Regions from separate parts of the Homo sapiens genome. Here region 2 is linked to region 1. The links come from fine-mapping of genetic effects on gene expression. Tissue or cell type: whole blood. Region 1 holds a variant in brackets; the other region holds the start of a gene. All regions are shown on one strand. Distances are from middle to middle.

Evidence for each region. PIP is the estimated chance that this variant, and not a neighbour inherited with it, causes the effect.
Region 2: CMIP starts here. The variant in region 1 is fine-mapped to the expression of CMIP in whole blood (INTERVAL, PIP above 0.99).

What each region holds. Positions count from the first base shown.
Region 1 is chr16:81,472,835-81,485,487 of GRCh38, reverse strand. The region is part of intron 1 of CMIP (c-Maf inducing protein); the gene reads right to left. It also overlaps the pseudogene PPIAP51. Among named protein-coding and RNA genes, the nearest start is that of CMIP, 34 kb to the right of the region's middle. RefSeq lists enhancers at 4,244-4,313, 4,344-4,433. The variant G/A (reference allele first, on the strand shown) is at 6,333.
Region 2 is chr16:81,438,776-81,451,428 of GRCh38, reverse strand. It overlaps CMIP (c-Maf inducing protein), which reads right to left and starts at 6,621. Exons shown (of 21, transcript NM_198390.3): 1 at 5,888-6,621. The coding sequence starts at 6,187. RefSeq lists enhancers at 2,024-2,787, 3,554-4,317, 4,318-5,083, 7,248-7,780 and silencers at 5,629-5,928, 6,359-6,408, 6,479-6,828, 6,939-7,038.

The DNA of each region.
Region 1 (12,653 bases):
ACAAGCTGGGACGTCCAGCAGTCCACAGGCACAGCTGGTTTGCATTTTCATGAACCAGAACCACTTGCAGTATTATCAGCTTTCCACAATTAGAGTTGTAAAATAGCTCAAAGAAAACAAAAGGTAGAAATAGCTCGGATGAGTGAGCTAGACAACACACCCAGGAATCTTTCTCCACCCATTTCAAAGTCGTTCGCAGTATTTCTTGACAGATATGAGCTCACAAGGAGATGGATGGAGAACATATTATACTAGGAAAATTTAGGAACAACTTAAATGTCCATCAACAGGAAAGTAGCTTAATACATTCTGGTATACATACGCAATAGAATACTCCACAGCTATTCAAGCAAATGATGTCGGAATAAAAAATAAGACGTCTGAGCCCCATACACAGCAAATGAATCTCAACCTCTGGGGGTGGAGTCAGGCATCAGGACATTTTTTAAGCTCCTCAAGTAATTCCAATGCGCAGCTCAAGTTGGAAACTGCTGCTCTAAACTCGCCCAAGAAAGCCTTGGACAGAAAAAAAAAGAGGTTTTCAGGGGTAGGAGGAGGAAGGCAGGAGGGGAGGGAGGGAAAGAGGCAGGGAAGAGGGTATATCTGAGCAGACCCCACTCCTAGGAAGGGGATAAGGACAGAGGAATAAGGAAGCCAAGAGTTAAATGAATGAGGACACCCGGGCAGGCAAAGATCAAAGGTAGAGTGAACCCCACACTCGTTTCAGAAGCCCACCTGGCATCTTCCAGCCCCATCCAGAGCACGCCGAGTACTGGATGCGCACAATGTTTCCATCGCTTAGCGTCTACAGGAGTCCCATCAATGGCCTTAAACTAGCCGGGTCTGTGCGCACCAACTGCAGCAGAGAGCCGGAGATGATTACCCAATGACCCCACTACAAAAACCCACTCCTGCCTCAAGTCCCCCACCCTCGTGGCCCAAGGGGGAAGAGGAGATGCTTGTACTGGGCGGGGAGGTTGGTTTTGCAGCCAGGTGATCGTTCTCCACCAGAGTCAAAATGGAGCCCAACCTGCAACACCCTGCGTTCGGCGCCCAACCCGTCTACCCTTCGTCGGGGAGACGGGTTGCCATGGCAGCCACACATCCCAAACCTCGGCCAGAGCCAGGGCTTTCTGAGCTGCACCAGGCCTCCTTCACAGGCGGTTTTGGCTTCCCGTGCCTCCCAGAACTCTTCCTCGAGCTGGCAAGTGGAACTCCACCCAGCTGCTGTGGCCTTTTCACCAAATCTGACTTTGCCAGAAGGAATGGGAACGGGCGAGGTCCGCCAGGGAAGGGCGACTTCCACCTGGTGGGCCCCTGAGCTGACCTGGAGTTGGTGGAAAAAGATGATGGCCAAGGACCTGAAACTATCTCGGTGACTTGGCAAAAACGCTATCTGGTTTGTCCGCCAATGAATCTCACATCTCGCAGAAACCCCAAGACACAGTAGGTGTTTAACAAATATTAACTAATTTATTAAGCTTGAAATGATTACATACAGGATTGAACTAAACTGGATGCCACCTTACACAAGTTCCCAGTTTATGACAAAATATGTTGGGTGGAAAACATAAAATGCAGACAATTCCATCCCCTTAATTTCAGTCCTTTGATTTGGATAAAGATCGCCACTATCTGCCTGGACAGATAACATGCTGCAGGACGGGTTGCGAAATTCTAGAAGCAGAGTTTATAAACCACTGTGCTATATAAATAGCAAAAGCCATAAGTGACCAACACTGAGGATAGCTGGAGGAGGGGATGGCCGAGAAAGGTCCCCAGACTGGACTGTGGGCAAGGCTGCTACTCCAGGCAGCAGGCCTCAATGGGCCCAATCAATCCCCACAAAACAGTGGGCAGCTGGGGGAGGGTCAGGGAGAGGGAGAGGAAGAGGAAGAGGAAGAGGAAGAGGAAGAGGAAGAGGCTGCGGGAGGGAGAGAGGCAAGCCAGGAGGCACTTCGGTCTTCAGAGCTGCCACTTTCCTGAATGTATTAGAGCAGACACAGCTCTCTCCTCTCCCTCAGAGTTAACGGCCAAAGTTCTTACAAGGCCCTACACCATCTGACCCCACTAGTGACTCACAGAGCTCACCTCCTGCCACCCTCCTCAAGGCACATTCTGCTCCATCCACATTTACCTCCTTGCATTCCTAGAAAAAAAACCAGGTAAATTGCTGCCCCAGGGCCTTTGCACATGCTGTGGATGGCTCCTTTACCTCCTTTAGCCGCTGCCCCATGGCCTTTGCACATGCACAGCTTCCTCCCTTACCTTTTCCAAACCTGCTCAAGTGTCACCTCTCATCCAGATTTTCTTTGGTCACCCTATTCCAAAGGCCACCACACACAGACGCCACACCCTCCCCATTCATACCAATACTTCTGTCCTCCCTCGTCTGATGGTTTCCTCCACAGCACTTAGTGGCAGCAGACAAGATTCTATATTTCCGTGTTCATTTTCCTCTCCTCCAGTAGAATGGGGGCTCCAAGTAGGCCAGGATGATGCCTGCTTTGCTCCGTGCCTGCAATGGTGCCTGGTGCACAGTGGACGCGCCACCGCCATCTGCTGAACGGACGAGCAAGCAGGCATGCCTGTGCACCAACAGCGTCCCATGACCTGCCTCGCTGACCCCAGGGCTGACCCTGTGAGTCAGGCCCTATCTCACCCCCATTTTACAGTTGGGAACGGGCTCAGCTTAGGATGTGGTGGAGTTTGGATTCAAACCCAGCCCCAGTGACTCCGAAGCCCGGGTTTGTCACCTTCTCCAGCAATGGGAAGATGCAGCCTGCATTTCCTGCCCAAAGCACATTATGCTCCTAGCTCTCCCTCTTCCTGTCACTGTGAAAGGGAAGCTCCTAGGTGGGGGAGGGGCAGGGGCTTCCCCAACACACACCGTCCTCCTGGGACACGCATGTCCACCAGGCTCAAGTGGGAACAGAGGTCCTCTCTCCAGAAGCTACTTAGCAGGTGACCAACTCCCAGTCTGCCCCATGACTTAAAAGGCCCTCTGCTGTCTCACCCTCCCCTCCAGGAGCTCCTCCTCCAGGTACTTAGGCGCCCAGCACCCCTCCAAAGCCAAGCACCCACTCACCTCCAGGCCTTAGATTGCCTGCCCACCAGCCTCACTCTCCCCTGCTATGATAGGCACAATAATGGCCCTAATCATCCTACTCCCTTCAACCTGTGACTATGTGGCCTGACATGGCAAAGGGACCCTTAGAGTTGCTTAAGCTGAGGATCTTGAGACGGAAGGTGCCCCTGAATGATCTGGTGAGCCCAGTGTAACCACAGGGTCCTTATAAGAGGCGGCAGGGACAGGCCCGGTAGCTCATGCCTATAATCCCAGCACTTTGGGAGGCCAAGGAGGGTGGATCACTTGCGGTCAGTAGTTCGAAACCACCCTGGCCAACATGGTGAAACGCTGTCTCTGCTAAAAATACAAAAATTAGCTAGGTGTGGTGGCGCACACCTATAATCCCAGCTACTCAGGAGGCTGAGGCACAAGAATCACCTGAACCCGGGAGGCAGAGGTTGCAGTGAGCCAAGATTGCGCCACTGCACTCCAGCCTGGGTGACAGAGTGAGACCCCCTCTCAAAAAAAAAAAAAAAAGAGGGAGGCGGGAGGGCCAGAGCCAGAGGAGATGTGAAGACTGAAGCAGAGGTTGGAGTGATGCTGCCACGAGGGAAGGAATGCGAGCAGCCTCTAGATAATGGAAAAGGCAACAGACCCTTCCCTTAGGCTTCCAGAAAGACAACACCTCAACTTTAGCCCCTACGAGACTCACTGTGGACTTCTGACCTCCAGAACTGTAAGATAATAACTTTGTGTTGCTTTAAGCCACAAAGCCTGTGGTCATTTGTCATAGCAGCCACAGGAAACTAGTGTACCCATCCCCCCAAGACCTCAGTTGAAACAGCACCCTCTGGGAGCCGCTCTGGCCCTGGCATGGCCCCATCCCACGCAGATGCTCCCTGGACTTCCTCTTTCATAATTATCTGTCAGTGTTACTTAGTCAAGCTCTGAAGCCATCAGCTCACATTCAATTTCAGTCTCCGCTTCTCACAAGCTGTGTAACGTTGGGAAAGCTTCTCAGCCTTCCTGAGCGGCCCTGTCCTCATCTGTTACACACAGTCGCTCAAGGCCCTCACCTGTACACCTGCCATGAGGCTGGAATGAGGGAGCTCATGCAGAGACAGGGCCCGGCACACCCAGATGAGGGTGACACAACAATCCGTACCACCTGCCAGACCATGAGGATAATGGAGACTGTGCCTGTCTCATCACCGCATATTCCTAAGAGCCCCAGACGGCGCCCAGCTATCAGGTCTCAACAATATTTGTTGAATAAATCATGAGTCCCACAGCCATCAAAAATCTCAAACGCAAATAGGAGGGACAAACCATGTGCAGCTGAGGGAGACAGCCGGGCCAAAGCCCTGAGGTGTGCACAGCTTCTCCAGCTCCATTCAATGGCCCACCACTAGTTCAAACTGGGCAGAGCAGCTCTCACCGATGTCAAAGCCATCCCGTGAAAACACTGCATTCAGCCTCAACTTTGGACCCCACCCTGACATCACACACAGGCTTCTTTCCCACTCTGCTTCAGCTGAGGTCCCCACCAGGAGGGCCAAGGGGAGACTCCCTCCATGATAAGTGAGGCAAACCACCCCCGTCCTTTCCCAACAATGTTGGGGAAACTGATGTCATCATAACAGTCCCCTTGCACAAGGTGGCTGTAAAGGTAAAATGAGAGAACGTGAATCAGTGCCTGGCATACAGCTGGCACCCCATAAATCCCAATTAGATAGTTTTTAATTATTTTACCCCATAGCAAACACATAAGTAGCAACAGGTGCCCCTTCCAAAATCACCTGCAAAACAACAGAGGGAGGCTGGAGCAGCAGAATGGGTCAGGGCTTTGGACTCAGGTGGAGATTTTATTATTATTTTTTGATACAGTCTCACTCTGTCGCCCAGGCTGAAGTGCAGTGGCACGATCTTGGCTCACTGCAGCCTCTGCCTCTCGGGTTCAAGCGATTCTCATGCCTCAGCCTCCTGAGTAGCTAGGATTACAGGTGTGTGTCACCACGCCTGGCTAATTTTTATATTTTTAGTAGAGATGGGGTTTCACCACGCTAGCCAGGCTGGTCTCAAACTCCTGACCTCAGGTGATCTGCCCACCTCGGCCTCCCAAAGTGCTGGGATTACAGGCGTGAGCCACCACGCCTGGCCTCAGATGGAGATTTGAAGCTGAGAGAGCTTGGGTAAGTTACCTGACCTCTATAACCTGTTTCCCTATCCACAAAATGGAGATAATATTACCTACCCCAAAGGACTGCTATGACCCAAGGAAATACTGCCTACCACTCACTCTCATGTTAGAATCGCTCGGAAAAGGCTATGGCCCAGACCTCCCCCAGACCAAAGCCATCAGCGTCTCTGGGGTGGGGCCTGGGTTTTGGGGGTTACGAAGATCCCCAGGTGATCCCATTGTGCGGCCAGGGCTGAGAACCACACATGCTTATGTGGACCTGGCACAAAGTAGGCACTCAAGAAATCCAAGCTTTCATCATTATTTCTCAGCTGGCCAGGATTTTCTTTCATTCATTCAGCATACATTTGTAGAGGGCCTAATATATGCAAATGCAAATCAAATTTAAAGTCATATGTTGGTTTTCAAGAGCCGGGGGTAGGGGGAAAGAGGAGTGACTGTTAACGGGTACAGGATTTCCTTCTGGGGTGACGATGTTTTGGAACTAGACAGAGGTGGTAGTGGCTAAATATCACTGAATTCTTCACTTTAAAATGGTTGATTTTATGTTATGTAAATCTCACCTCAACAAAAAAAGCAAAATAATAATAATCATAACCCAGACACGAAAAAGACAAATCCTATATTAACCCATTCATATGTGGTCCCTAAAGGAGTCAAAGTCATAGAAAATGAAGAGAGAATGGTGGCTGCCAGGGGCTGGGGGAGGGGGACTAGGAGTTAACATTTAATGGGGACAGTTTCAGTTTGAGAAGATGAGAAAGTTCTGGAGATGGATGGGGGTGATGGTTGTGCAACAATGTGAACGTACTCAATGAACTGCACACTTAAAACTGGTTAAAATGGCCCATTTTATGTTACGTGTATTTTATCACCATTTAAAAAAAGGTCACATGCTGACAGTCCCTCAAGACATTCATTGCCCACCTCAGCTACCTGTAGCCCCCACCTCCTTACCATAGGAGATGACATCTTCCCAGTTTTTCCAGGCGAGCAACTTCGAGTAGCTGACCGCCCTCTTTACAAACAGGATGGAGGCTACGCATGTGTTTTCTCTGTGGG[G/A]CAAGGCCAGATTAAGCAAAGAAAACACAGCAGCTCCTTCCCCCTCCCCCCAGGAAAAACCCTGTCCGGTCAATAGCAGAACTAAAGAGCTGGTGCACACTTTCACTTCCCACTCGAGTGCCTGAGGACCCGGCTTCTCCTAGGCGTCCAGCAAAGCCCAGACTTAAAGGTGGCAGGTGCTGTCCTCTCACCCTGCTTCGGGTGAGGACGGGTCTCCAACTGAGCTCCAATGAACAAGACGAGGCTGGGCTGGCTCCAGGAGGCAATTTCTGGCTGGGAGGTGGGGAAGAAAGACCCAGAAGAAGGGCAGGGTGTGACAGAGGGACCTGAATCCCAGAGCCCTGGGTCTCCTGCTCCCCTCCCTGAGTGCCTCTGGATATGGCGCTTCCAGGCTGGCCCTCAACGTCCACACCTATAGGAACAAGAGAACTGAATTCAAGTGGGAAAAGCAAATGGGTTTATCTCAGGTGCCAACTTCTTCCCACCGGGAGGCTCTGGGGTGGCTGCGGCTCTGCAGGGCACCAGGAGGACCAACAAGGGCTGGAGGGTGGAGGGGACCACACATGGTCTGTGCATTCACCATCCCTGCATGAGATCCCTTCCATAATTCCTCAATGGAATTCCATGAATGTGCTTTCTGGATCTAGAACGCACTCGGTGGCCTCCCTGACTGACACATGTCCATCTGACCTTTGCTTGCACACCTGCTTTCTCAGGGAGCTCACTATCTTCTCCGGCAGGCTGCTCCTCTCCATACAGGACGCCAAAATCTCGGCCCTACAACCCCTTCCCAGGAGCTGCTGGCGCCATGCAGAACTGTCGGCTCCCTGTTCTACTCTACGGCTTGCTGATACCTTACCACTCCCTCTGCCCCTGTAAAAGCCTTGCTTCCTTCCACTGTGCTACATGTGAGTGGCTTTCAAAGGATGGCCTGTTCCGGAAGCTTGAGGGAATGCCCACGCAATGTGTCTCCCTGACCAGCCTTCGCCTTCCCAAGAGTGAAGTGGAGACTGGCCCTGGGATACTTTCTGGGGTGGGGGGGAAGGGCAGTGGCAGAGATGGCTAGCGTGGCCCATGCCAACACCCTATTCTGGCCTCCTCTCCCTTCTCAATAATAAAAATCCTGCTGTGGGGTGGGATTCATGGCTCCCACTTACATTTCCCAGATGCTCTTGCAGCCGGGGATGCCACATGATGGTCTGGCCAGTAAGGTGAAAGCAGAAGTCACCTTAACAGGGCAGAAGTCCTTTTCCACTCCCCTGCCACTCCCACTTTCTGCTAACTGGAATGCAAACGAAATGGTAAGATCCCATTTCCCACTAACTGGAAGGCAGGCAAAATGGCAGGAACTTGAGCCTCTCTTGGCCCATGGTGCTAAGAACGGAGGAGCAGCCACATGGAGGGGCCCTAGGCCCTCAAAGCCACAGGCCAGCCACGGCAACCCTCACACGACTTAGACCCTAGATTTCCTTTATACGAGAGAAAACAAACAAGCTTCTGCTGTGTTTAAGCTGCTGCATTTTTAAATATTATATGATCCCGGAGTCTTACATGCAGGAGCAAGGAGTTCTGAGTGCTGATGACGACAGTCCAGCCGCCTTCACACAGGGAGGGCAGCCATTGCCTTCAGTGGGAAAGGAGGGGACCTGGATGCACAGTCCATACCCTGCCCTGTATCTACCCCTTAAGAATTCAGGCTAGGTGCGGTGGCTCACGCCTGTAATCCCAGCACTTTGGGAGGCCAAGGCAGGCAGATCAACTGAGGCCAGGAGTTCGAGACGAGCCTGGCCAACATGGTGAAACCCTGTCTCTACTAAAAATATAAAAATTAGCCAGGCGTGGGTGTGGTGGTGTAAGCTTGTAATCCCCGCTACTCAGGAAGCTGGGACAGGAAATTACTTGAACCCAGGAGGCTGAGGTTGCAGTGAGCCGAGACCACACCACTGCACTCCAGCCTGGGCAACACAGCAAGATTCCATTTCAAAAAAAAAGAGTTCAGGGCCGACATTTCCAAGCCCGATGTGTATCTTCAAAATCAGAAGATAGACACAACCAGCTGCCATTTTTCAAGCATCAACCATATGCCCAGGTGCTCAGCTCAACGCGGCATGAATTAGCCCCACGAGATAAAAATGGTCCTACTATAGATGAAGCCCAAAGAGGTCCACCAAGTTGAGGCTGAAACCCAGGAGCCCTGACCTCCACGCTGGGGCTGGGGTCTTTTCATTCATCTTCACCGTCTCCTAAAGATCCTTAGGGAGCCTGAGAAGCTGAACTTGGCTGACGTCGGGAAGTAAGGACAAAAGGAAAGAAGGGGTGGGAGGGAGAAGAAACAGGAAATGGGAGAAACTCTTGGATTCCTGTAAATGGAGATTATCTATGAAGATGTTCACTGTGGCATTGTTTACAGCAGCAAAAATCTAGAAGCAATCTAGAAGACCATCAACAGAATGCATAAATAAATATGCCACGGCTTCTTCATACAATGGATCTCATATACAGAAAGTAAGCAAACTAAAAAGGCAAGTTGCACAAGAAGGCCCAAGTAATGATACTATTTATATGAAACTTTACAATCTAGGAAACATGGCCACTCTGCAGACACCGGCGCCGTCGGGAAACCTGTTCTATCAGCCATGGTCAACCCCACTGTGTTCTCTGACATCGCTGTCAACGGCGAGCCCTTGGGCCGCATCTCCTTCGAGCTGTTTGCAAACAAGTTTCCAAAGACAGCAGAAAACTTTCACGCTCTGAGCACTGGAGAGAAAGGAGTTGGTTATAAGGGTTCCTGCTTTCACAGGAACATTCCAGGGTTTATGTATCAGGGTGGTGACTTCACACGCCGTAATGGCACTGGTGGCAAGTCCATCTATGGGGAGAAATTTGAAGATGAGAACTTCATCCTAAAGCATACAGGTCCCGGCATCTTGTCCATGGCAAATGCTGGACCCAACACAAACGGTTCCCAGTTTTCCACACGCACTGCCAAGACTGAGTGGTTGAACGCAAGCACGTGGTCTCCGGCAAGGTGAAAGAAGACGTGAAGACTGTGGAGGCCATGGAGCACTTTGGGTCCAGGAATGGCAAGACCAGCAAGAAGATCACTATTGCTAACTGTGGACAACTTGAATAAAGTTTGACTTATGTTTTATCTTTTTTTTTTTTTTTTGAGAAGGAGTCTCACTCTGTCACCCACGCTGGAGCGCAGTGGAGCAATCTCAGCTCACTGCAAGCTCTGCCTCCCGGGTTCATGCCATTCTCCTGCCTCAGCCTCCCAAGTAGCTGAGACTACAGGCGCCCCCCACCACACCCAGCTAATTTTGTTTGTATTTTTAGTAGAGACAGGATTTCACCGTGTTAGCCAGGATGGTCCTGATCTCCTGACCTCATGATCCACCTGCCTCAACCTCCCAAAGTGCTGGGATTACGGCAGTGAGCCACCACACCCAGCAACTTGTGTTTTATCTTAACCATCAGACCGTTCCTTCTGTAGCTCAGGAGAGCACCCCTCTGCCCCATTTGCTCACAGTATCCTAGAATCTTTGTGCTCTCACTGCAGTTTCCTTTGGGTTCCATGTTTTGTTCCCTTCCATGCCTAGCTGGATTGCAGAGTTGAGTTAAGTTTATGATTGTGAAATAAAAGCTATATAATAACAAAAAAAAAATCTAGGAAACATTATGGAGTGTTCTATAAGAGTATGTAGTTGTACAAGTACAAAAATATGCACAAGAATAAACATCAAAGTCGGGGCAGAGAAAAGGAAGGGTTTGAAATCAGAGAACGGTACATCAGGTATTGCAACTGGAATGGTTTATTTCTTCCGCTGAGTGGTTACACTGAAATATTATTTTATACCCTGCTTTGCATGGCTGAAACAGATCATCATTTTAAAAGCAAAGGGAGAATATGCAGTTTATTGCATGTCAACTTTATCTGAAAGCAATTTTTTTTATGCACCTAGAGAGAAAGAGACAGAGAGAGAAAGAGACAGGAGGGAGGGAGGGAGAGAAGGGAGGAAAGGGTTAAGGCCTCCAGACACAGCATCTTCTCCTCATGGCCCACCCTCCTCTCCAGAGGGCCAGCCATGCTGACCACAGCAGCTCCATTCATGAAGCCACAAGGCCACGGTGAAGAGGGCCACTTAAACTCCATGTTGCTGAAGGCTCCTTAAGTGAAGTGACATCCCAAACCTTCCAAAATGAGTTACCCTCAGGCCTGGCCACCCCCAGAACCACATTCAGTCCACCAGCAGTTCTGCAAAGACAAGCACTGGTCGACTCCCTCCCCGCCCGCCCCCCATGGCTGGAGGCAGGGCAGCCAGGCTGGCAGGGCCTAGGCACAGAGACTGTCCTGGGCTGGCTCCCCTGGCACCAAGGAGGCAGGAAGGGCGTGCAGGAGAGGCAGGACCAGAGGAGAGGGAGCCCCAGGAGGAGGGCGCCATGAGCACGGCCAACACTGAGGCCCCTCCGCAGGCGGACAGTGGTTCCTCCACTTCCCCCATCATTCCCCTTCCACAGAAGTGCGGTGACACGGAAGAGACCACACAGTAAGAAGACACCAGGGGCTGGGGCTCCCTGCTCCTCTGACCTGACTCAGTTCACCCCTGGGATCCTCACGCAGCACCTCCCACCAGAGGTGTGGTCTGAAGGTAGGGAGAAGCCACCATGAACCCCTCACATGAAGCAGAAGTAGTGTGCGACGTGCCTACCTGGTGGCCCCCGGTAAGCACCAGATGAATGGGAGGAAGGGAGTGAAGGAAAGAGAGAGCGGAGAAAGGAAGGGGGAAGGGAGGAATGGAAAAAGAGGGTGCAGGAGAAAGAAGGGGGAAAGAGAAGAATGGAGACAGTAGGGAGAGAGGGAGGGAGGGTAAGTCAGTGACAGACAACTCAACTTAAGGAGCAGCAGCTGGACTCCCACAGTCACCTTGCCCTCTCCAAGCCCGGGGGGTACAAAGTCCACGCCCACAAGCTCTGAGCAGGGGGGAACCTGAGTACAGTGGGCTAGGAGGCTGGGGGAGTGGAGAGGCCGTGCCCAGCCTGAAGGGGTGGCCACACAGGAACATGGGCACAGCCAGGAGTGCCCGGTTAAAGGCCTGCCTCTGCTTCTTTAGCTGTAGAATGGGGATGATCACAGGAAGCACCACCTCGGAACTGTCTGGGGATCCCAGGAGCAAAGGGATGGGAGTCGTCTAGAGCTGAGCCAGGCCTGTGGTAAGTCACATAGAAATGTTTGCTTCTGTTGTTATTATTAGAAAATGGATATCCGGAACTTTTTAGGGGAATGCTCCCAACTTTAAAGGCAGACAACTTACTGAAGCTTTAAGAAAAAAAAAAAAAAAAAAAACCACTGTGTGGGCCAAGTAAAACACGTCAGCAGACTTGACTTGGCCCATGGGTCATCCGCTTGCAGCTTCTGCTCAATGCGTCCCTGCGTCCCCGCGTCCCCCAAAGGCAGGCCCAAGTCCTACAGGGGTCGAAAATCATGAGTGAGATTTGAGATCACCCCATTCCAACACAAGCGTCCAAGCCCATGAATCCCTTAATGGGAAATAAATATTTAAGTCAACCCCCGCCCAACTCCCACACCAAAAGGACAGGAACTGCTAATTCTTACCCACTACAACCAAGTCTCCAGTTTTATTTCATAGGATGGAAAAAAAAAAAAAAAGACCTATTTTAAAAAGAAGAAGAAAGGGAAAAAGAAAACCAACAAAGACAAATTCAAAAACGCACCACTGTTGACTTGGGCAACAGCCTCTGCCGGGTCAAAGAGGAAAACAGCTCAGTCCTGAAATCCGTCCCAGACATGGAAATTACAGAGCGGCCCCTGCTGACACCCCCTGCCCTTTCTGTGTCATTCCCTCATGAGGAATGCAATTATATGCCCCCCACGGCAAACACGAAGGAAGACACGTCAGTGACAGCCGCAGCCTGTTCACGTCGTCCTGCAGAGACAGAGGCCGACATAAGCACTTGCAGGCGGTGGCCACCAGTGCAGCAGGAGCTGAAGGCACTGACCTCAGAGGAGGCCGGGCAGGAGGCAGGGGCCGCAGGCAGGCTGGTGGTGTGGCTGAAGGTGCTATATTCACTCCCATTTTATAGATCAGGATGCTGAGGGTATGCAGAGGAGATGGGATCTATGTAAGCTTGGCCCACTGGATGCAAGGCGAACAGGCTCTCCTCGCACCTTCAGGGCAAGCAGTTAAACAGACCAGCCCCTCACACACTCACTGGGCAGCTGCGGTGTGGCCAAGCCCCGAAAGGAACAGGACAAAGTACTGGGCGCAGGCTGCAGATCACCACAGATGCCACGATGTGCCC
Region 2 (12,653 bases), 34 kb after region 1:
GAGACTGGGCAATTTACAAAAGACAGAGGTTTAATGGACTCACAGTTCCACGTGGCTGGGGGGAACTTACAACCATGGTGGAAGGTGAAAGGCACGTCTTACATGGTGGCAGACAAGAGGAGAATGAAAGAGCTAGGCGAAACGGGTTTCCCCTTATAAAACCATCAGATCTCGTGAGACTTATTCACTACCAAGAGAACAGTATGGGGGAAAGCGCCCCATGAGTCAATTATCTCCCACTGGGTCCCTCCCACAACACAAGGGAATTATGGGAGCTACAACTCAAGATGAGATTTAAGTGGGAACACATCCAAACCATATCAAAGAGGCTGGGACTAACCTCAATGCCCATCAACAGGGGAGGGTCTACCTACATTACTGTGATACACTTCTACAACAGAACACTATGCAGCAATGAAAAAGAACAAGGCAGCTGCACACGCATGGAGGGTCTCCAAAATATACTGTCCAGTGAAGAACCACGGTAGACAGCTGTGTGCATGCATGTCCAGATACACAAGAAATGAGCAGCAGTGCTTGCCTCCAAGGAGGGCCACTAGGGGCTGTGTGGACGTCGAGTAAGGGAAGCTTCATTTTTCATTAAACACCTTGTTATACTAATCAAATCTACCTGATGCATACATGAGTATTTCAATTTTTGTAATTTATTTTAAGAAACTAGACTACGCCCCGCAAGGAATTTTTCTTAAACTGCTGGCAAGAATTTCATTGCCTTCCTACCTATGAGACCTGCTAAACACCCCTAGCTTTCCCCAATGCACTATTCATCTCAGGGAACTCTCTGGAGGCCACCCATTTTTAGGTAACAATAATCCCTTCCATTTGTGCAGAAAGTCATGAAGCTCTTTCAGGGCAATTAGCAAAACAGGAATTGGAATCCTGGTCACTGTATGCTGACTATACTAGTAGGTGCTTATCTATCCTCTCCAATCCTTACAGCAACCCTAGACATGAGGTGCTCTCCCTAAGGATGGAGGAAAAACAAGGCCCAGCAAGGGAAAGCAAAGCACCAAAAGTCACACAGCCAGGAAACTGCACCCTTCAAATCCAGATCCAGCGCCATGAGAACGCAAAACCCAAATCTGTTCTCCCCCACAGAGGAGATGCCCCATATCAGGCTGCCTCACCTAATCTCATGTATTCCTTTAATCAAAGGTGTAAGCTGACCCCCTGCAATGTCCATGCCAACAAAACACCAATTGGGTACCTTCAAGACGAGTCAGTCCTGGCTGGCAGCAGTTGAGGTACCCTGGGACAGCTTTGCCTTCTACCAGGTCCCCCTGAGCCCTGCCCAGGACAGTGCCCCAGAAATGCCCTCTCACTGCCCGATGAGACACTAAGGAGCAGGCAGGGCCGCCACATCAGTCAATCTGTGGGCCAAGCAGCCCAAGCCAGCAGCAACTGCCACCTCTGTCACCCACTTGCAGGAAAGCTCAGCCACATGCAGTGAAATTCCTTCCACCTGGACTGGCATGATGTTGCCGTGGCCGGAACAGGCATCTCAGATTGCACCAGGCAAATGCGAGCATCAAAACTTACTCCTTCCTTAAAATGCACTTACTTATTACAGCCTGGGAAAGGCAGACCACGTTTGCAATTTACAGAGAATTTTGACTTTTTCTCCTCTCTGTCTCAGCCCCTCCCCTCCACCACCTCCAATCAGACAAGTTGTCTAGGAAACAATTTTGATACACTCCAAAATCCTCCTATGACAAATGGCATGGAAAGGGGGGGGGGGAAATCTGTGTGTTTACTGCCACAAAAAAACATCAAATAAATTAAAGGCAGGCTAGGCACATGGGGGGAAGGGGGGTATGTAACAAAAGTGAAAAAGCAATTAACATGCGTGCATGTGGGCACAGATGAGTTCTCGTGGGATCTGTGACTACCCTGGAGGACATAGATTTTAATTCTTAGGTAGAAACCAAGCCATGTGGATGTGTAACTCTTAGCTCAGCAAGTGACACACAGTAGGCATGCAGTAAGCCTGTGCTAAACAAAGTCCAAGTTCAGAAAACACCAGACTAAAGAAACCAATGAGAATGAAGGTGGCTTCTCCTTTCCCATCCATATCAAGATGCCCAGAAACATTGCAATCAAACAGCAGAGTGGTGAAAATTTAAAAACAAGCCACTGATGAATTATGGCTTGAGAATAAAGAACACTACTGTCACCTGTGCCCCGACCCCTGAATAAAGGACTTTCTGAGTGGATCCACCATTCTGAAATACCGTGTGCCACATTCTCTTAAAAGTAAGATGAAATAAAAGGTAGGCAGCTTATTTGTACTTCTGTGGTGCAGAAGAAACAAAGCCTACAGACAAAGCCCTCTGCCCACGGACAAACATGCCTAGCAGGTGATCAAATTCAACCCACAGACGAGAGCAGCAAAATGGATTCTGGTCCTGCCGAACCCGGCCGCTTATGCAGAACCCCTGGCTGCCCTGGCTGTCATTTACAACCAACACGACCATCACCAGCCATGAAGAGCCAGTGAGGCCCAGGAACTGGGAAGTTTGGGTACAAAGAGGGAATGGGGCACCACATTCAGGCCACAGCCTGGGCAGACAGGCCCTTCCCCACAAAGGTGCAGTCCTGGGTCCCCAAGGGAGGGGGCCCTGGCCTCCCTATCTCCCCTCCCAAGTCAGCTGTCGCCTATCTGCTTCCTCCTTTGTTTACGAGCATTTCGGATCCAAAGTCTCCAAGCACAGGGTGCATCAGACCTGGCGGCCGTCACAAGCCACATTAGGCACGCTGTTGGCTCTGCAAGGATTTAATCAGTAACTGGCCCAGGAGACCAGGGCAGGGCAAGCTGCGACCTGATCCCACAGGAGGCAAAGTTTACAGGCAGGCCAGGCGGGTGAGGCTGCTGGCTCCACCGGTAAGACAGCCTGGAGGGCTATCAGGTCCCTTGGACCCCAGACTAAAAGGTGTACCTAGCCGGTGTCACCCAGCAGGTGGGACTGGGAGCCCGAGTCTGCCTGCATCCCAGCCTGATGCAGATGTGCTCCTGGAAGCACGGTCTTAAATCTCTCAGATTCGGTTAATTGGATCAATGGAAACAGACTGCAAAAGGTTTGGGCAAAAAAGAGTATTTGGCTTGTTTATTGGTTTGAATCCCTATCAATCACTCTGGGTCTTGTTCCTGAAGCCCATACAATTAACCAGATAATTACCAGATGATTCTGAGTTGGGCTGTGTAGATGGCTTAAAATATGGATGACTGATATTTCAAGTAAGGATATGACTCTATAGGAAACATACTTGGAATATCGGGAGCTCAGGGCTGGGCCAGCGGCTGCTGCGAAGCCACAGGACTGCAAAGGGTTTTTGTTCTAGGGAACTGCACTCAAATTCACCTTTGTTTTATTTGGGCTCATATTTCTCAATAGAGTGCTTGGGCCGCACTATAAAACGCAGACAGATTACATAATGTCCAGGCCTCAGGGAAACCCCACAGGGGCTCCGCTGCTTCCCCGAGAGCCTGGACACCAACCAGGTGTCTCATGATGGGACGAGAGCCCTGGTGGCAGTCCCAACCTCACCTCTACCCGGGAGGCCAGCGCTCCAGCCAGGCCAGCCCTCACAGCCCCACCTCCAGGCTCACAGGCCCTGAGGCAAGGCCCCCTGGAGCCCACCAGAGGGCAAGGGTAAGACTTAAGGACACCCCCTGCCTGTAGTGCTTGGTGACGAAAGGCAGCGGAAAGGGGATTATGCCAGTCCATCAAACACTTCCTTATAGTTCCTCTTGCCACATTTCCTAACACCAGAGCATGGCTCTGCCAAGAGAATCTTGCTCCATGGATAAGCCTCAGTCCCCAGTACTAGACAGGTGCTTTCCGGAAAGGCCCACACTACCGATGGTGCCACCTACCTGGGCTGGCCAAGGTGAGCGAGGGGCCTCTGGCTATTCAGGTCTTTCTTCCTTCCCTCTTTCTCTCAGATATACCTCCTGAGCAATCGGAGGTAAGTGGGGAGGCATTAGCCTCGAGAGCTGGCTTTCCGGAAACAGGACGGTAGCAGCGGGACACTCACTCCTGGCTTCTCCCAGAGGGAGAAGGGGCTCCTCCTGGCCTTCCCATGGCAGGTCACTGTTCCTTCTAACCATTTTCCTACCCCACCACCAACAACCCTTCATTTTGTGGAGTGTAAGAGGAAAAAAAAAAAAAAAGCCCAATAAAGTCCCCCTGAGCCAGGTGAAAATTCTGAAGCCAGATCTGGGGTCTCCAGAATCCAGGCAGGGGGCACCGCGGTCACCAGTTCCTCCCCACATCAGAAACACTCCGTACTGGCAAATTTTCGGAGGCTCTCTCCCGCCTCCATCCATTGGAAAGCCAAATGCTGCGGCCTGTGGCGCGGGACGGGCTTGAGAACATGCACCAGCCTGACCGGGGACTGGGCCGCCTCCCCGCGACCAGCAATCCTCCCTGAAAAAGGAGTCTTTGCAGATATTGCACCAACGTGCCCACAGGAAAGAGAAAATAGGTGCTCTAAGCATGTCGGACCCCAAATTAAGAATAAAAGTCCTCGAGGGCTGCAACGCTCTGGGGTGGGGGGTGGGGGACTGGTTCAAAGAGTAGGATTCTTCAGCTAACTTTTCCCCCCTCCCCATTCCTTGGGGCATGTGTCATGGCCTGTGACACACCGCCAAGGGAACATGGATGCCAGGGAAATGTCTACACACGCTACACGTTTGTGACATGCCATGTAAGCGACACCCTATTTCCTGGCTGGGTTTTCTTGGCACAGGTGTGGGCAGGCAGTGGATTCGGCCCCCTCCCACTGCGCTTAGTAAACAGGATCACGGTGGCCCCAGGGAGGAGTGTGCATTCTGGGGAAGACAAGCTACACCCCCAATGAGGATGGGACCCCCACGGCAAGCCTCAGGCCCAAGCCACAGCCGGTATTTGAAACTGTCCTTGTTTCAAAACACAAAGCATCCTGTTCAGGCTCCTACCCGCCACCCCCACTCTCCCCTCGACCCCACCACAGCTGTCTTTCTCCACGTACGAAGAAGGCCACCATTTGCAGATCTGATTTCAGAAACAGATCAATGGTTTTTCCTCTCCGACTCATCCAGCTGACCCAGTCCTACCCATGTATTTAAAAACAATAACAAAATTAAACCTCCAGCAACAAAACACACACGTATACACACACTCTACAGACAATGCCGGACCAGGGCTCCACCAAGCAGCTTCTAGGCTAGAACTCGACCACCGCTGGGTCCTGAGATATTCCAGGACCACTGCCCCCTCCCCCTCCACTTCCAACCTCTCAATGTGCGAATGAGATTTTCAGAAAGGGAAGCACCCCGTTCTGCCTGCCAGCCCTGGCAGGAAAGAGAATAAAGGACGGGTAAACCAAACAGAGAAACTGGCTTCTGGAAATTCTTTGGGTTTGGGGGTTTGGAGGTTTTGTTGTGTTGTTTGTTTTTTTTTTTAAATCTGAGGGGTGGTATTTTGTTTTCCCCTCCCCCACCCCTCAGATCCAGATGGGCCAGGGGCTTCCAGAGAGAACCCCCACCACCATCAGGGCCCAGCGTCGGGTCCATCCTCGAGTCCCAGCCACCAGAAACACAAGAGCTGGGGGCAGAAGGTCCCCAGGCACCCAGCCTGGCGGTGGGCCGAGTCTCCAGCATTTTAAGGGTCTCTCCTGAGCCCGGTCGGCTGGTTTGGGCTTCAGACTCCAAAATCGAGCCCCGCGAGCAGGCCAGGAGCGAGGCGCCCTGGTTCTCCCCGTTCCCCCGGCACCCCCCACCGCCCCCCAGGCCCTGGGCTCCAGGTGCAGCGCCAGGGGGCAGCCAGGGAGGGCGCATCTCGGGCCCCGAGGAGAGGCGGGGGTGCAGCCGCGCAGAGCCACTCACCGTGGCGGACGCCAGGCTGTTGTCGGCCAGCGTTAGGTGGTGCGGCTCCCAGCGCCTCAGGAATTTCGAGGTGAGGATCTTGCTGAGAAAGGTCCGCGGGTGCCGGATGACACAGACCTGAATGTCGCCCTCCTGCAGCAGTTTGTACCTCATCCCGTTGCAAAGCAGAAGAGCCCGGCGGCAGGGCACGGCGCCCATCTTCGTGCCTTCGGGGGCCGACACGTCGCCCCCCAGCAGCGGCTTGGTCTCCTCGATCTGCCGGGGGTCGCCGCCGCCGCCCGAGCTGCTGGTCACATCCATGGCCGCGCCGGGGGAGGGGGCTGGGGGCGGGGAGAGGGGGCTGTCCTGGGCTGCTGGGGCGGCGGGGCCCCCGGATCCGGCGGCCCGCACCCCCCCACCCCCCGGGAAGGTGGGGGGGTGTGGGGCTGGGGGCGCCCGCAGGGGAGGGGGCGCTGCCCGCGGGGGGCGGCGCGTGCGGCGGGCTGGGCCGGCCTCGGCGCTTCCTGCGGGGCTCCGGGCTTCCTCCTAGCTCGTCGGGTGCATGCTCGCGGCGGCTGACCGGGCTCGGCGGGCGACGGGGAGGGGCGGGGGAGGCCGAGGGCGGGCCGGGGCCAGGCGCGGAGGGCGGGCGCCGGGGTGGGGGCGGCGGGGTGGGGGCGGGCGTGTCTCGGGGCCCCGCGCCGCCGCGCGCGTGTGTACAGAGCGTGTGTCCGCGCGGCCGTCCGGGCGAGAGTGGCCGCGGGCGGGGCGGGCCGCGCGCCGGGCTCCCGGAGCCCGGGGCGCCCGCGCGATTGGTCCCCGCAGGGTCATGTGCCCGCCCCTCTGACGTCAATGGCGGCAACGGCGGCGGCCGCGGCGGCTTCGGCCTCTCGCGGGCGGAGTCCGCGGTCCGGGCGGGGTCGCGGCCCACGACGGGGAGGCGCGGCCCGACGGGAGGGGCAGCCCCTGGGGAGGGGGCTGGGGCGGGCGAGCCCCGCGGGGTCCCGGCCCGCCCCGCCTGGAATGTGGGGAGGGGGCGGGGCGCGGGGGCGGGGCGCGTGACGTCACGCCAGCCGCGCCCCCGCGGGTGCCCGGGCGGGAGCCCAGCCAGGCTGCCGGAGCCTGGGGGCCCGCGCCTCACCCACCCCCGCCGCCCCCGGGCCGGACTCGGACGGGTAAAGAAGGATACCCGAGGGCCGGGGGCTGGGTGGAAGGACGGGGACTGGAACCCTCGACCCCTGACGCCCCCTCCGCTGTCCAGGCTGTCCAGCGGGCTGGCCAGATGGGGCCGTGGGACGGGGACGCCTTCCCGACTGAAAGTGTCCCCGCGGTGATCCGGAGGATGAGCCCACCCTGCCCTGTCTCCCACTGCGGGACCCAGCCGGCCTCGAACTCCTGGCCTTTGACGTCTGCTGGCTTTGGCCTTGGGGGTCCTCAAACCTTCTGGAGAGAGGGGACGGTCCGCCCATCCCCCTTCTTTCTTCTGCCCAGGGAGACAGAGCCTCTTCTAGGAACCCACTTAAAGCACCCCCCAACCTACACAGCCACCCCTCTTGTGCGCACCCCAGCAGCTCCCCCTACTTCACCTTCCCTGGGACCCCACCTGGTCATTTTATCTGAGTTCACAGGCCCAGCACCAGCCCACGAGAGAACCATATTCGATTCTCTTGTGACCCAGGGTATCAGGAACTGCAGCCTGGATGCAAAAAGCTCCCTTTCTGCCATCACAAGCAGCCGGCACCTAAGGCCACCTAGCAAATGCTCAGCTCCTCAGCCAGGTTTTCTTATCTCCACGTGCTCCTGCAGCTAATAACGTTAAAACCCTAGATTTTTGCCTTTTTAAGTGAAGGCGCCTCTGTAGTGAACACATGAATGTGTGCAGCGTGTGTTGAACTGCGTCGTGAACACTGCGGAATATCCACAGCATCTGTGCCGTTGGTGGAAATTATTCACCCCCCCTCTCCCAAGAACAGGCAGCATGAAGGTGCTCCCCAGAGGACCCTCTCCCCGAGCCTGGCCAGGGTTTCAGGCAGGGGATGAAAGGCAGGTCCCAGGCTGCATCCCTCACCAAGGAAAGAAGACTCACATCCAGCCTGCCCAGGAGATGCCTCCTTGGGGAGGCACAATTAGATTAGAAAGTTAGAAATTCCTTAGCTCCCCACAATTTGCTGCCATTTCCTTCCAGTTTTGAGCTTGAACAGCCTTGAGAAAACCACCAAGCATGAAGGGGCAAGCCCTAGATATGTGGGTGTTGGGGGGTGGTTGGGGCCAAGAAACCCCCCAGTCCATTAAGCGGGTGGGATTAGATCCTTTGTTCAAATATTTTCATTGAGCTCCTGCTGTATGCTGGTCACAGGCCAGGCACTAGGGTATTAATGGTAATGACTATAATAACCACAGTGGCCAGAGGCTTCCTATGTGCTAAGAATTTTGTACGCACACATCATTCTCTTCTCACACCCTATGACATAGGTGCTGTCCTCATCCTCAACCACAAAGCATGGAGGTCAGAGTCCAGAACAGTAACAGACATTGTGCTTGGTGCTCCAGGAACAGAAAGGGGGATGTCTAACCCAGTGTGGGGGACCAGGGTACTCTAAGAGTTCTTTAGGAATCAAGTAAAGAAGGGGATAGGTGCTCCAAGAAGACGAACTGGCTCCTACCAAGGCAAAGAGATGGGAGGATGCTCAGCTTGTTCAGGAAACTGAACTCACTTGCCATGGGGTGCAAGGTCCCTGGAGGAGGTGGAGCAGAGATGTAGGCGGTGAGCAAGCAGCACCCTGAAATGCAAACCCAGGGACTAGAGCAGTGGGGAGACACCACATGGGCCATGCAAAGGAGTGACTTGTACATGGCTTCTTCAAAAGGCTGCAGTGTGGCACAGATGAGCATTGCAGAGGAGAAACCTAGAGGCAAGGAGGCCAGTGAGGAGACTTTCATGCTCACCTACCCCCCACAGAAGGAAGCAACAAGGGCTAGCACAAAGTCACTGGGTGGAGTGGCCCAGTGGCAAGCAAAGCAGCTGCTGTCCACTTCGGGGACATCTGTGGACACGCCCCTACCCATACAGGGCACAAAACTCCAGTAGAAGGAGGAGATTTAGCAGGATGCAAATCCCTGATATATTCCAGGACCATTCCAGACATCCTCCATGCAGCCCAGTACAGTGGTTGATTTGTAAACATTAAGTAGGACATACCGTGATAATAATGACCGGTACCCAAGCACCAGATACCATGCTGGAGGCCTTATGTATTTGTTCTCGTTTATTCCTCCCCACCAGCCTAGGAGGTAGGAACTATTACCATCCCCATCTTAAGTGAGGAAGTTGAGGCTCAGACAGGGTCAGACAACTATCAGGATCCAGCCGAGGTTTGAACCTCAGATTCTGTTCGACCTCAAATTCCATGTGCTTCCCACTCCTCTGGGAATTTAGGAGGACATTACAAATGTCTGTCTTTGTAATGTTGTCCTGAGCAGGCATTCAGGAAGAAAGTATTGAATTCAATCAGTGTCCTCTTTAAATAGCAGTATTTCTTGAATATAGTTTCAAATCAGTGAAATGGAGCCCCCAAGACACGGCAAAGAAAGTTCCTGAGGGCAGAAGCCAGAAGCGCCTGTCTGGCAACAGCACTAGCTCAGTGCCTGGACAAAGCTGGGGTGCAGCAAATACACAGGGATTGATTGTCAAAAACATACTCCTTGGTGCTTAGCAAAGGTCCAGCCACAGGACTGGGTCAGTAAGTTGCGGGGGATGAGCTGGGATGGCGTTAGTACTCAGTCTGTGACAGTGTGACAGTTGAGTCCACAGCCTCCTAGACTGGGATTTGGCTAACTCATTGCAGAGCCCCTCCACCTTCCACTATCCCAGGCTCCCAACCTAGAAAGGAATCTGAATCCAGCCATCAGATTCCATCAGAGCCCCATCCCTGGAGCTCCCCAAATTATAGGAAACATGAGCCCGTCGAGCTCCCGTGGATGGACCATGTCCCCGAGTTGTGCTCAATGCCCTGGAACTCCAGACCCTCCAAAGAATGGTCCGAGCCCCTAAGAGCCTCCCCTTCCAACACTGAACTTGAGAAGCTTACGGAGTAGCAGGAAGGGCACGGCGGTTCACGCACCCTTCACTCCCCTTGGGCTCTCGCAGGCTCGTTCACTAACCAGAGGCCAGTTCACCAGACAAACCTGTCATTTTCTGCATTCTTTGCTGGCGGTGTCTCCTTGTTTGAGCCAGGTTCCAAAGGATGACGTGTGCCCTCACCTGAACTACCGCTTTCGTTCAACAGCCCACTGTGGGGTCACCCCGGGCCACACTGGTGGAGGACCCACTCGATCAACTCAATGCTAGGAGCTGGGATGCCAAACTGAACAGTAAAGTGCCTTCATGGGCACAGTCTCAACTCGAGTTCTCTGAGGTGTCCCCTGTAGCTAACTCAGAAGGGAAAGACACACCCGCTACCCAGGCTGCCATTAAGGAATTTGATGAGGTGGCAAAGTACCTGTTGGGGAGGAGAGCAGTGGAGCTGAGGGGCAGCCTAGGAGAGGTTGAGCTGAGGCGCCTTCCAGCAGCCACACCTGTAAGTGGATGTTCCCCCTGCTCCCATGAGGGCAGCATTTTATGTGCTATGGATCTGTAGCACCCAGCACCGTCCCCAGCCCTCAAATAGGTGCTAATAAACAGGTGTTTAACGGAATTAAATAAAAGAAAGAATGAATGAAGCGGGCAAAGTAAATGCATAGTGATTTTCGGTTGAATGGCTGGATCTCGCTGCGATGTCAATGTCCTCACCCCTGAGCTACGTGACACTGCTTCATTCATTTTCTTTTATTTGATTCCATTAAACATCTGTTTATTAGCACCTATTTGAGGGCCGGGGACGGTGTTGGGTACTACAGATCCATAGCACACAAAATGCTGCCCTCATGGGAGCTCAGCAACTATTGTCATGGGGGGTCAGCAACTATAGTCAAGGGGCCAGATTCAGCCCATGGACTCCAAAGCCTAAAATATTCACTCTCTGGCCCCTTTTCAGAAAAAGTTTGGCAACCCTTACAATAGACATAAATAACTTCAAGAAGAGAGATACCGGCAAAATGTACTAAAATAATTAGGAAACGATGAGTTGTATTACCTTTTAAAAAATATTATTCATTTAATTGTAACTTTACATAACTTAATCTTTTTTTTAACTGGCTGTTTAACAACCAGCAGTCTCCAGTGGAGATCCACTCCAGCCTCTGCACAGCTCTCTCTCCTTGCCCCACCCCACCATGAAATGGTGCACAAACCCCAATGCACTGCACTGTACCCTCCAAGCGGGCAGGGTTCATTCTGGTTTTGCTCACCACTGTATCCAGGGTCGTGTTCAATAGTCAGCCTGCTGAAAAAAGGAAAGCCTGATCTATAAAGTTTGACAATTTCCCTGGTGCAAATACAACCACCATGGCCAATTATTATACAAGCTACCAACATGTGTCCTTGGACATGGAGTTAGGAAGACATGCACCCCACGGCAGAGTTTCCACCACACAGATACAATACACCAGCAAGGGGCCAGATTCAGCCATGGACTGCAAAGCCTAAAATATTCACTCTCTGGCCCCTTTACAGAAAAAGTTTGGCGACCGCTACAATCGACATAAATAACTTCAAGAAGAGAGATACCGGCAAAATGTAGTAAAATAATTAGGAAGTGATGAGTTGTATTACCTTTTAAAAATATTATTTACTTGTAACTTTACATAACTTAATTTTTTTTACTGGCTGTTTGACAACCAGCTTGCAAAATTTCTGAAAAATTAACAATCAGCTGTCATGAGCCATTACAGATCGGCTTCAGGACACCGCTGCTTGTTTCTCCAGGGCATGTCACAAAGTAAATGCACCATGATTATCTGTTGAATGGCTGGATCTAGCTGAGACGCCAGTGTCCTAACTCCTGAGCTACATTACCCTGCTTCATTCCTTCTTTTATTTGATTCCATTAAACACCTGTTTATTAGCACCGAATTGAGTGGCAGGGACTTTGCCGGATACTGCAGCTCCATCACACATATGATGTTGTCCTCATGGGAGCTCACAGTCATGTGGGAAAGCCAGACGCCCTCACAAAAAATCATCACAACCGCCCCCCAAAAAAGTATACCAAGAAAAAAACAAACTCTCTGCTCTTTTGCTTACCAGCTGTATGTGTCTTTGATTGATTTACCGTCAAGTGGAGTCGTCATAGTACCTTCCTCCCAGGTCGCAGAAATTCAGTGAGATGATCAAGCCGAGCCCAGAGTAAGCACTCACAATAGTGTTAGCTATTTCACATTACCACCGTTATTTTAGAACCCGTATTGGCATGACCGTGGCAACGGGCCTTCCATCCAGACCACCTCTCTGAATCTTTCCCATTCGCCCAGCAACTGGGTATAGACACTCTAGACACAGCATCTCTGCAGGATTGGAAGCAGGGTTTCCAACTTGGGCTCTATTCACATTTGGGATGGATGACACTTTGTGGCAGGCAGCTGTCCTGTGCAGTCTGAGATGTTCTGCAGCATCCCTGGCCTCTACCTGTTGGATGCTAGGAGCATCCGCAAGTCATAACAACCAAAAATTTCTCTGGACCTTGTAGCTGGGACTACAGGCGTCCACCGCCACTCCCGGCTACTTTTTTTTTTTTTTTTTTTTTTTGTATTTTTTAGTAGAGACGGGGTTTCACTGTGTTAGCCAGAACGGTCTTGATCTCCTGACCTCATGATCCGCCCACCTTGGCCTCCCAAAGTGCTGGGATTACAG